2 separate regions of the Homo sapiens genome follow, and region 1 is linked to region 2. Evidence: fine-mapped expression QTL. A gene starts in region 2. The other region holds a variant in brackets. All regions are shown on one strand. Distances are between the middles of the regions.

Evidence for each region. PIP is the estimated chance that this variant, and not a neighbour inherited with it, causes the effect.
Region 1: its variant is fine-mapped to the expression of ZNF331 in lymphoblastoid cells (TwinsUK, PIP 0.95).

The regions. Positions count from the first base shown.
Region 1 is chr19:53,510,276-53,515,662 of GRCh38, reverse strand. It overlaps a transcript of ZNF331 not described here. Among named protein-coding and RNA genes, the nearest start is that of ZNF331, 25 kb to the left of the region's middle. The variant A/G (reference allele first, on the strand shown) is at 2,585.
Region 2 is chr19:53,535,312-53,540,698 of GRCh38, reverse strand. It overlaps ZNF331 (zinc finger protein 331), which reads right to left and starts at 2,554. Exons shown (of 6, transcript NM_001079906.2): 1 at 2,403-2,554; 2 at 1,417-1,483. RefSeq lists enhancers at 2,475-2,524, 2,310-2,826.

The DNA.
Region 1 (5,387 bases), 25 kb after region 2:
AGCCGGGCGTGGTGGCACATGCCTGTAATCCCAGCTACTCAGGAGGCTGAGGCAGGAGAATTGCTTGAACCCAGCAGGCGGAGGTTGCAATGAGCCGAGATCGCGCCATTGCACTCCAGCCTGGGCAACAAGAACGAAACTCCGTCTCAAAAACAAACAACCAACCAAACAAAGTCAGTGCTCCACAATGAACGAAGGATGGAGGGTGACAGAAATGCCCATGTTAAAATGACACAAATGCTGCTGTCTTACTGAAGTTTGGTACTTTCTGTGGGATAGATACTTTTCACTTTGTTCTGTGGCTTTGGTAAATTTCAGAAGTCTGAAATGATTGATTTTAGTGACTTTGCGAGTGTTTTCATCATTTTGCAGAGGAGACTTGGTTTCTTGTGGTTTGCATTCATCAATGTTAGAAGCTGATCTCTCTATTCAATCTTGCAGTTTTAAGTAATGCATTGAACAGTCACATAACAGAACGCGGAGCAGGAGAACTAAATTTCTAGTGTAATCAGAATGGCAGGCACTAAATGAATTATTTTACAATAAGCCTGTGTCCTTTTTATTAACTGTTCAGTGAAGAAGTTTGGAGTCTATAAACTTGTAATAAATGTGGCCTGTAAGAACTACAAATACTGGAAAGCTTCTCTGAGGATGTAATTTCTAATTTGATGAAGAAAACATTCTCTTTAATTAACTTGGCAAGGAGAAGGCTTTGGCGGGGCACCATGGCTCCCGCCTGTAATCCAGCACTTTGGGAGGCCGAAGCGGGTGAATCAGGAGGTCAGGAGATCAAGACCATCCTGGCTAACATGGTGAAACCCCATCTCTACTAAAAATACAAAAAATTAGCCGGGCGTGGTGGCGGGCTTCTGTAGTCCCAGCTACTCGGGAGGCTGAGGCAGGAGGATGGCGTGAACCCGGGAGGCGGAGCTTGCAGCGAGCCGAGATCGCGCCACTGCACTCCAGCCTGGGCGACAGTGTGAAACTCTGTCTCAAAAAAAAAAAAAAAAGGAGAAGGCTTCAATAAAAAGAAAAGCAACTATGCCTGGGGCGGAGCTGGAGTGGAAATAAGATGGCAGACATTGGACGTCATTGAAGGCCTAGTGATGTGGTTTTAGTCCATGTGCCAAGAGCAAAAAGTTATTTAAAATATATTAGTTAGGGCTAGGCGCGGTGGCTCACGCCTGTAATCCCAGTACTTCGGGAGGCCAAGGCGGGTGGATCACCTGAGGTCAGGAGTTTGAGACCAGCCTGACCGATATGGTGAAACCCCGTCTCTACTAAAAATACAAAAAAATTTGCCGGGTGTGGTGGCATGTGTCTGTAATCCCAGCAACTCGGGAGGCTGAGGCATGAGAATCACTTGAACCTGGGAGGCAGAGGTTATAGTGAGCTGAGATCGTGCCACTGCACTCCAGCCTGGGCAACAGAGCAGGACTCCGTCTCAAAAAAAAACAGAGAAAAAATATATTAGTTATTGGGGAATATCAGCATATATAAATGTGTTTTCAGGCAAAAACCACAATAACCTGGATACAGACACATGGAAATATATTAGGAATTTTTTCAGGTGTTCAAGAGGGAGCTGTGAAATATAACTTAGTGATATTGGGGCATGATAATGGGAGAAAATATGTTAAACCATATATACCCTATGCGTGATAAGGAGTTTATATCCAAAATATATAAGGAACACCCACAACTCAAAAGCAAATATGATAATAGTAATAACCCTATTAAAGATGAGCAAAGGGGCTGGGCGTGGTGGCTCACACCTGTAATCCCAGCACTTTGGAAGGCCAAGCATAGTGGATCACCTGAGGTCAGGAGTTTGAGACCAGCCTGGCCAACATGGTGAAACCTCATCTCTACTAAAGTACAAAAATTAGCCAGGTGTGGCGGCTAATCACGCCTCCCCGGAAGGCGGAGGTTGCAGTGAGCCGAGATCGTGCCATCGCACTCCAGCCTGGGCAACAGAGTGAGAATCCATCTCAAAAACAACAACAACAACGAAAAAAAGTAAAGGGCCTGAATAGACTAATCATCTGGAAAATGCCAATCAAAATCACAGTGAGGTATCACTTCACATGTCTTAGGATTGCTATTATTAAAAAGACAAAAGGTAACAAGTGGTGAGGATGCGGAGGAAAAAAAATACCCCTGTACGTTGTTGTTGGGACAGTCAATTGGTAGAGCAATTATATTTTTAAAAATTCTAAAAAACATGGAGTTGCCTTACAAGTTATAATTTAATTTTACTCAAAACAATATGAGAATTAAAATTCTTTTTAATTTTAAAAATCAAAATGACCAAACAATCCAGCAATCCTACCTCTGAGTATGCGTCTGAAGGAAATGGGTATTTCCAAGAGCTATCTGCACTCCCACGCTTGCTGCAGTGTTATTCGCATCAGCCAAGGCACGTCAGCCGTATGAGGGTCCTTCATGATGCACGGATAAACACACTGTGAGACAGACAGACAGATTTCTCAGCGGCTGAGAGGGTTTTAGAGATCCTGACACCCAGAGAGGAACTGGGGACAGAAGAGGATGCAGCTTTCCATTACCAAAGCTGAGGAGGTCC[A/G]GAAGGAAGAGGAGAGGCCAGTGGGGCTCACCTGCAGGAGCCTGCTGAGACTCCGGAGCATGGTCCGTGGGAACGATTCTGATGCTTCTCAACCATGTGCTTCCTTAGCAGAGAACTGTCTAGATTAGCGGTTCCCAGCGTTTTTGGCACCAGGGACTGGTTTGGTGGAAGGCAGTTTTTCCACAGACGGGGGGATGGTTTCAGGATTAAACTGTTCCACCTGAGATCATCAGGCATTAGTTTGATCTCATAAAGAGCATGCAACCCAGATCCTTCGCATGCACAGTTCACAGTAGGGTTGGCACTCCTCTGAGATGCAGTGGCGCTGCTGATCTCACAGGAGGCAGAGCTCAGGTGGTCATGCGCCCTCACCCACTGCTCACCTCCTGATGTGCGGTCCAGTTCCTAACAGGCCACCCATGGGGACCGGTCCGCAGCCCAGGGGTGGGGATCCCTGGTCTAGATTAGTGCAGCTTGACTTTGGAAAAGAAACAAAAACCCTCTGATGTGGGCACAGCAGCCACATCACGCAGACCCATGATGCCCAACTTAAGAGCTCCCCGCGGGCCCTCACTGGGTAAGGGAAGTAAGCAGCCCAGATCCTGCTACCCAGGAGACCACCTGCCACCACTTCAGAAAAGCCAGGGGATCTCCCTGCACTCTAGGTCTGAGGCCATTTGTGAAGACGTAGCTCAGGTGCTTGCAGATTCAGCAGGCACATTCCCCGCTGACCCCAGAGCAGCTTTCTGGCCTCACCCAGCTCCGGGGCCTCTGTGCACCATGGTGCAGACCTTCCAGGCCTCGGCCACGCAGGCATCTCTGTCTTCCCTGCTGAGGGTGGCTTCTCCCAGTCCCACTGGCGCGTCCCTGGGGCCCATCCCTGGATGAAGGAGAAGCTCAGCGCTCCTCCCAGGATGGAGAGAGGCCCACCTCTTCCCCGGACCGGAGATAACAGACCCTGTTGGTGGATCAGATTGGGCTTGAGATGAGGTGCCCAGCCCTGTCCAGCAGAGGGTGCTGCTCTGAGAGTCAGAAGAAAGACCTGCCCCTTCTCAGATTCCTCCAGATGACCAGCAGGGATGACTTTAGACACACGGTGTTAATACATGCTAGAACCTGCGGAAGGAAAATAGGAAAATAACTTGAACGATATACTCAGAATGGTGAACTCTGTGGTTCATTGAGGATGAAGTTCACTATTCAGTTTCGTGTGAGATATTTGCTGTCTTTTGGATGTCTCCTGAGAGTCATGCATTTCTGTAGAATCACAGCAAATATTAGGGTGTAATCATCCATATGTGTTTGTATATTATAAAGTATAGCAAAAATAAATATATATATTTATATCCTTCTACTTTAATTGAGAAAAGGCTGTGTCTCTTCACTCTCTCACCTGCAGTCCATGAGGGACTCAGACCCACAAACCTGAGACGCATCTCTATTGAGAAAGGTTATCTTTTTACGCTTGATGACATCATGGCAAAACCACCATGTTATTGTTTGATTTTTCTTTCTTTTATATCTAAACTGAGTCAAGATGTATTAAATGCTTATTGATTATATTTATTTAGTTTATTTAGTTTTTGGCTCATATGATTTACTTGGATTTAAATTTTCTTCTATTTTATAGTTTTAATTTACCCTGTTTTACTATAGGATATTAAATCTAACATACATATTGTCACTTGTTTTACATATTGTTATATGTTTTCCTATTTTCATTTTACACTGCGATAATGCAATCTTTTACCATATAAATGTATATATTTTTATGTAGGGAATATATAAGTAATTGGGTATTCTTTTGTCTTTTCCTTATAATTTCCATATTGTATAGTATGAGATAAATATTAATATTTTCTAAGTATTTTATACTTTAGATAATTACATATTGATCCATAGGGAGGTTGTTTTGCTGCATGCGTGGGTTAGATAATGTTTTCTCTTCACTTTTGCTTCATCTCCACCCTGATTTCCCTCAACCCAACAGCTCTTGTTGTGGATATGGAATAGTAGTCATTCCAGTGAATGGGGAAAATTGAATGGTTGATGTTAGGAATCAGTTTGAACCCATGACATGGCCTTAAATTACACGCAGCAGGTATTTACATATATATGAGATAATAATTTACAAGTTAGATTTGGGGTGGGGATGCAATTACAAAATAACAATAAAATAAAATATACTTAGGAATAATTTTAACAAATATGTTAAATGTATATAAGAATTAAATAGAAAATTTCTGAAATATACAAATGTACACATAAGAAGTTACAGCATGGACTTGGGTAAAAAAAATCAATATTATAAAAATCAATTGCTCATAAGCTAATTTATAAATTTAATTTGGTTCAAATATAGATACATTCAGTTGGGAGTTATGGATGTTATTGCAAGAATCTCATAGGTGAAAACACAAATAAGAATAATCAAGAAAACTCTGAAAAAGAACGAAATGAGGGTAGCTAGTCTTGTAAGACATGTTGGTTGATGGGCAGACTGATAGATGGGTGGAGCTCACAACTCAGAAATAGACTGCAGTGCATAAGACACATTACAAAGTGACAAAATCGATTCTTTACAACACATAGTAAGATAAAGGTCTGATTTAAAATAAAGCTACATGGCAAAAAAAAAAAAAAAAAAGTTCAAGTTTCGATCAGGTTAATTCTGGCAGGTTGTGCTGGGCCTTCTGAGATTTCTGGGGATGGACAGCTCCCACTCCTACCCCGAGTTCCCTAATCTGCCATTTTTACTGAAGTCACTCCCCACCATCACTCGAACTGAAAGTGGGTAAAATGT
Region 2 (5,387 bases):
TTGGGAGGCTGAGGCCGGCTAATTAATCACCTGAGGTCAGGAGTTCGAGACCAGCCTGATCAACAAGGAGAAACCCTGTTTCCACTAAAAATACAAAAATTAGCTGCGGATGGTGACATGTGCCTGTAATCCCAGCTACTCGGGAGGCTGAGGCGGGAGAATCACTTGAATCTGGGAGGTGGAGGTTGCAGTGAGCCAAGATTGTGCCACTGCGCTCCAGCATGGGCAACAGAGCAAGCCTCCATCTCAATTACAGAAAAAAAAAGACTATCTCCTAGAGCCTCCAAGCACACACACCTCCTAGAGCTCTGCCAAAGAGCCTCCAAGCACACACATGTCCTCCGTGAGAGGACACAGCAAGATGGTGACAGTCTCCAACCTGGAAAAGGGCCCTCATCAGAACCTGACCATGCTGGTACCCTCTTCTCAGACTTCCAGCCTCCAGAACTGTGAGCAATAAATGTTTGTGGTTTCAGCCACCGGTCTATGGTACTTTGTTACAGACTAAGGTAAGAATAAATTAAGGAGTGTGTGCAAAACACAATAGAGTATGGTACAAAAATGCGCTCAATAAATGTGGCCAGGCTCCTCTCTTTTGAAGGATTCATGAATAATCCTAAATAATATACTAAAATGTCATGTTGGATAAGGTATTTACAAAAATCTTATTCAATGGAATTTGTAGGCAACTGAAGCATTTCCTTCATTTACTATTGTTAATAACTATTAGTAGTGTTTAATATTATGTCAGGTGCATTTTTCTTTCTTACGGTTATAACTAAACTTACTTCTTTGTAGCTGCAGAGTATTCCATGAAATGAACGTGGTATAATTACTTAACCATTTCCACCATCCTGAACAATAATTGTGGTCAAGGTACACAGCCTTCGATTGTAGACCAATGGGTCTAAATGTCTTTGGGGCATGTCCATCCTTCTTAATGCCATGAAATTACAGAGTATCTCCTTAGGGTGGTGGTGGTGGGGGACAGATACACTAACACTGATAATCACATACAGTAAATATACACAGAATGTCCCTTGGAAAGTTGTAAGTGGAGTTAAAGGCAGGCCCTCAGGTTAAGGATAACAGTTCTAGGCCATTTGAGGCTGTGGTTCATTTTGTGAACCTGCAAACACCCATCCCAGTTACCTTCATATGTACGTTGCTCCTGATGTACAGACATCCAGACTTAGCACAAAACAGCAGCACTCACTGTGCACTCCCACTCAGGGGTGCGCGTCTATGGGTTTTATGCGTGTTAATGCATTTCACCCTCCTCACAAGCCTATCTTCAGAAGGCTCAAAAAGCTAAGAGGCAGAAACAGGACTCAAATCTTGGTCATCTACCTTTAATGTTTGGTCTTAAGTCTTATAAACACATATCATTTAATATAAAAAAAAAAGGATACTCACCTGACCCTTTCAGATGTTTAACGATTCGTCTTCCTCCTCGGGGATGCTTTTTCTGAAGGATGCTGGCCTGGGGAAAACAGAACCGGAAGGGTAACACCTGCCATACCTAATAAAACCAATGAGAAATACGAGGCCCCGAGATGGAGTTTCTGGGAGATTCCTGAAGAGCACGCTGTGGCGATTGAGATGATGACGCGTGGAGCTGCCCCCCTCCCTGTCTCCCACATCAGGGACCTGTCCCTCTACAGGAGGAATTCTACTCCTGAGGCCACCGTCCCCTGTCACTCAGGTGGCCTGCATGCACAGCACTTCTGGCTCTGAAAGCGTCACCTCATGGCTGTTTCTGCCTTCTTGCTGGTGAATTTCCAGGCGAGGCTCAGGCGCTCACGTCCCTCCGCGGCCCTTGTTCTCAGGCAGGTACCGCTTGGTTAGGAGGTGAAGGCAGGGGAAGCAGCAGAGACGCTGGAGCTACAAGTTGCACTGTCACACACACCTGCATCACTCAGAAGGCCCGATCATCCATCCCAGCACAGAGACGCTGAAGCTACAGGTTGTGTTGTCACACACACCTGCGTCACCCAGAAGGCCCGATCACCCATCCCAGCACAAGTCTGCACAGCTCAGCCTCACCACAGCTCACTCTGTCCTGAGACACATCTGCGCCCCTCATACCCACTAACGCCCAGCACGGCCATGCTACGGGCCCCACCACCCCACACGGTGCAGAGGTGCATCCGTGGGCCACGGAGACCCGTCCCGACCGCTGCCCCCGCACAACCCCCAGAGCGCACCTCACGGAGCAGAGTCCCAGGGACGCACCGCCGAGGTTCACAGGCACGGGCTGCGTTGACCCAAAGCCTCTGGAGCACCCCCGGTCACCAGTTATGGGGAGAGCCCGGCTGTGTCACCCCACACTCTCCAGCAAGTGCGTCACCGTCAGAAGCCCCGTGCCCGTCTCCCCTCGGAGCCACGCGCACCAATCTCACCTGCGCGGACTGGCGGAGATGCAGCGGCTGCGTCACTGGTGCAAACGCGCACCCAGCACGGCCCCCATCGCCCCCAATGACGCTCGCGTGCACCCGTGTCACAGTTACGGGGACAGGGCCGCCGCGTCAGCCTCGTACTCCCACGCAAGTGCGTCACACACTCGGTCCCGCCACCCCCTGGAGGCCAGCGCGCATGCGCACGCGCACCCAGCGGCCGCAGCGCGCAGACAGCAGCAGAGCCCGACACGCATGTGCACACAGACCCCTACACGTATGTGCACGTACCCAGACCCCGACACGTATGTGAGCGTACACAGACCCCCGATACATAGCGTGCTCAGCTGTTGACGTGCCTGTGCGGGCACACAGACCCTGACGGGCGTGTGCGCACGCACAGATGCCGACACGCATGTGCAGACACAACAGAGCCCGACACACACGTGCGCCTGCACAGATGCTGACACGCGGACACACTGACACGTGTGCGTGCACCCCTCCCATCCCTTTCCCTCCTCCCACTCTCCCAAAGCCGCAGACGCACCCGGTAGTCCCCCAACGCTGGGGCCTCGGGAGAGGGTGAGGCTAGAAGAGGACGCGGGGCCGTCGGGGGAAACCAGAGCCCCAAGCCCCGTGTTCCAGCATGCAGCACGGCGTACTCCTGGATGGTCTCTGGGAAATGTAGTCCGGGACGGTCCCAGGCAGGGGCCTCAGGGCGCGTCCCAGGTCGGTGCCGGAGCGGGCAGCCCCAAGCTAAGCCCTTCCTGGTCCCTGCAGACGCCCCTTCCCGACTGGGAAAGGAGCTGTGTCACCCCAGCTGGGACCCCGTCTGGCCTCTTGAGTGGGGTGATGCCGGGCGAGCCATGGCTGTCCTCAGAAGGGTATCCTCTCCTAGCCCCTCTGGAGCGTCACCTGGAATTCTCTGCAGGCCGCTAGCACAGGCTGCCGGAGCTGCTATTCGGTGTCCCTTGCTTGCTGCATTGTAAACAATGTACAGGTAGCAGTTATGCCCCGTGAGTCCCGCTCTCATTCCAAGTACTAACGTCACAGGGTCTACAGGATGTTGCAGGTACTTAACCACAGTCTCATTTTGACTCAAAATCCCACTTTTTGGTATTTATGCCAAGGAAGTAGCTATAGTTGTACACAATGTTGAAGTATGTTCACAAAATGCTTTTTTTCTGAAAATCTTTTTCTCTTTTAATTAGATAGACTTTAGATTCATATGTAGTTACAAGAAATAAAATTGAGAGATCTTGTGTACCTTTCACCTGGTTACCTCAGCTGGTGATTGTAGTATATAATACCACAACCAGAAGATTAACATTGATGTAATCCACTGACGTTACCCAGAATTTCCAGAGAATAATTTTTTGTTTGTTTGTTTGTTTGTTTTGAGACGGAGTTTCGCTCTTGTTGCCCAGGCTCAAGTGCAATGGTGCGATCTCGGCTCACTGCAACCTCCGCCTCCTGGGTTCAAGGGGTTCTCCTGCGTCAGCCTCCCCAGTAGCTGGGATGACAGGCATGCGCTACCACGCCCGGCTAATTTTTTTTGTATTTTTAGAAGAGACGGGGTTTCTCTATGTTGGTCAGGCTGGACTCGAACTCCCGACCTCAGGTGATCCGCCTGCCTCGGCCTCACAAAGTGCAGGAATTACAGGCGTGAGCCACCACACCCAGTCGAGAATAATTTTTAAAAATGAAAATCTTGCAGTGGAGGATAAAGGAAAATCAGATTAAACCATGGTCTGTTATACAATGACATAGAGTACATTTCCTAATAATACTGACTCATTAATTAAGAAAACTTCTGAAGAATCAACAAGGGAAAAGGGTAGGTTAAAATGGTACATATAATTTGAGCAGACATGTTTTGGTGAAATTAACACAGGCTCTGTGGTCTGATTTGAGGGTGTTAATCTGAGCTCTGATAGTTATTAACTTCACAGTGTGGTAAAGTTTCCTCACTGGTAAAACCACAAGAAAGATAGTACAATGTATGACTGTTTGAACAGGATCATCCACATGAAACACACAGTCATATATAACAATTAAGATAAGGTAGCTGTTATTACTAAAAAATCAGTAACATATCTCAATCCATTTTCATAAAAGTAACAAGTCTGCTATTTCCTTTTAACTAGGGAGACAGAGACATGATAGTTCCTTAAAAAATCTAGTTTAAAGATTCTTATCAGCTAGGTGCAGTGGCTCACACCTGTAATCCCAGCACTTTGGGAAGCCAAGGTGAGCGGATCACTTGAGGTCAGAAGTTCAAGACCAACCTGGGCAACATGGTGAAACCCTGTCTCTACTGAAAATACAAAAATTAGCCGGGCATGGTGGTGAGATTGTAATCTCAGTTTCTCAGGAGGCTGAGTCAGGAGATTCGCTTGAACCTGGGAGGCAGAGGTTGTAGTGAGCCAAGATTGCGCCACTGCACTCCAGCCTGGGTGACAGAGTAAGACTTCATCTCAAAAAAGAAAAAAAAAAAAAAAGTGAACATTTTAAACTAGTGCTATCTCATTCTATTTCATATACCTTTGAAATGTTACAGTCAATATTCGTTACTTGCACATATAACCTTGGGAATATTTCCAAAGTCCATATTTGTAAGGTATCCAGTGACTATTTTCATATTCATCAATGATTAATTTTTCAAAGCAAGGAAACATGACTGGTATCTCTCTTCTCTCCACATGCACACAGACATAATGTGACCCGTGGTTGGGCTGGATTTCTTTTACAAACTATGATTTGGAGAGTTTTTGCCTCATTTACATGATTAATAGGATTCAATGTTCCAGAAACAAAACACACACATGCTTAGAGGTGGAGGGGAAGACAGTAAACATACATACTAAGTGTTAACAGTAATTATCTTTAGATGGTATAAATATGGGTAATTACGGCCGGACAGTGGCTTACACCTGTAACCCCAGCACTTTGAGAGGCCAAGGCAGGTGGATCACTGGAGGCCAGGAGTTC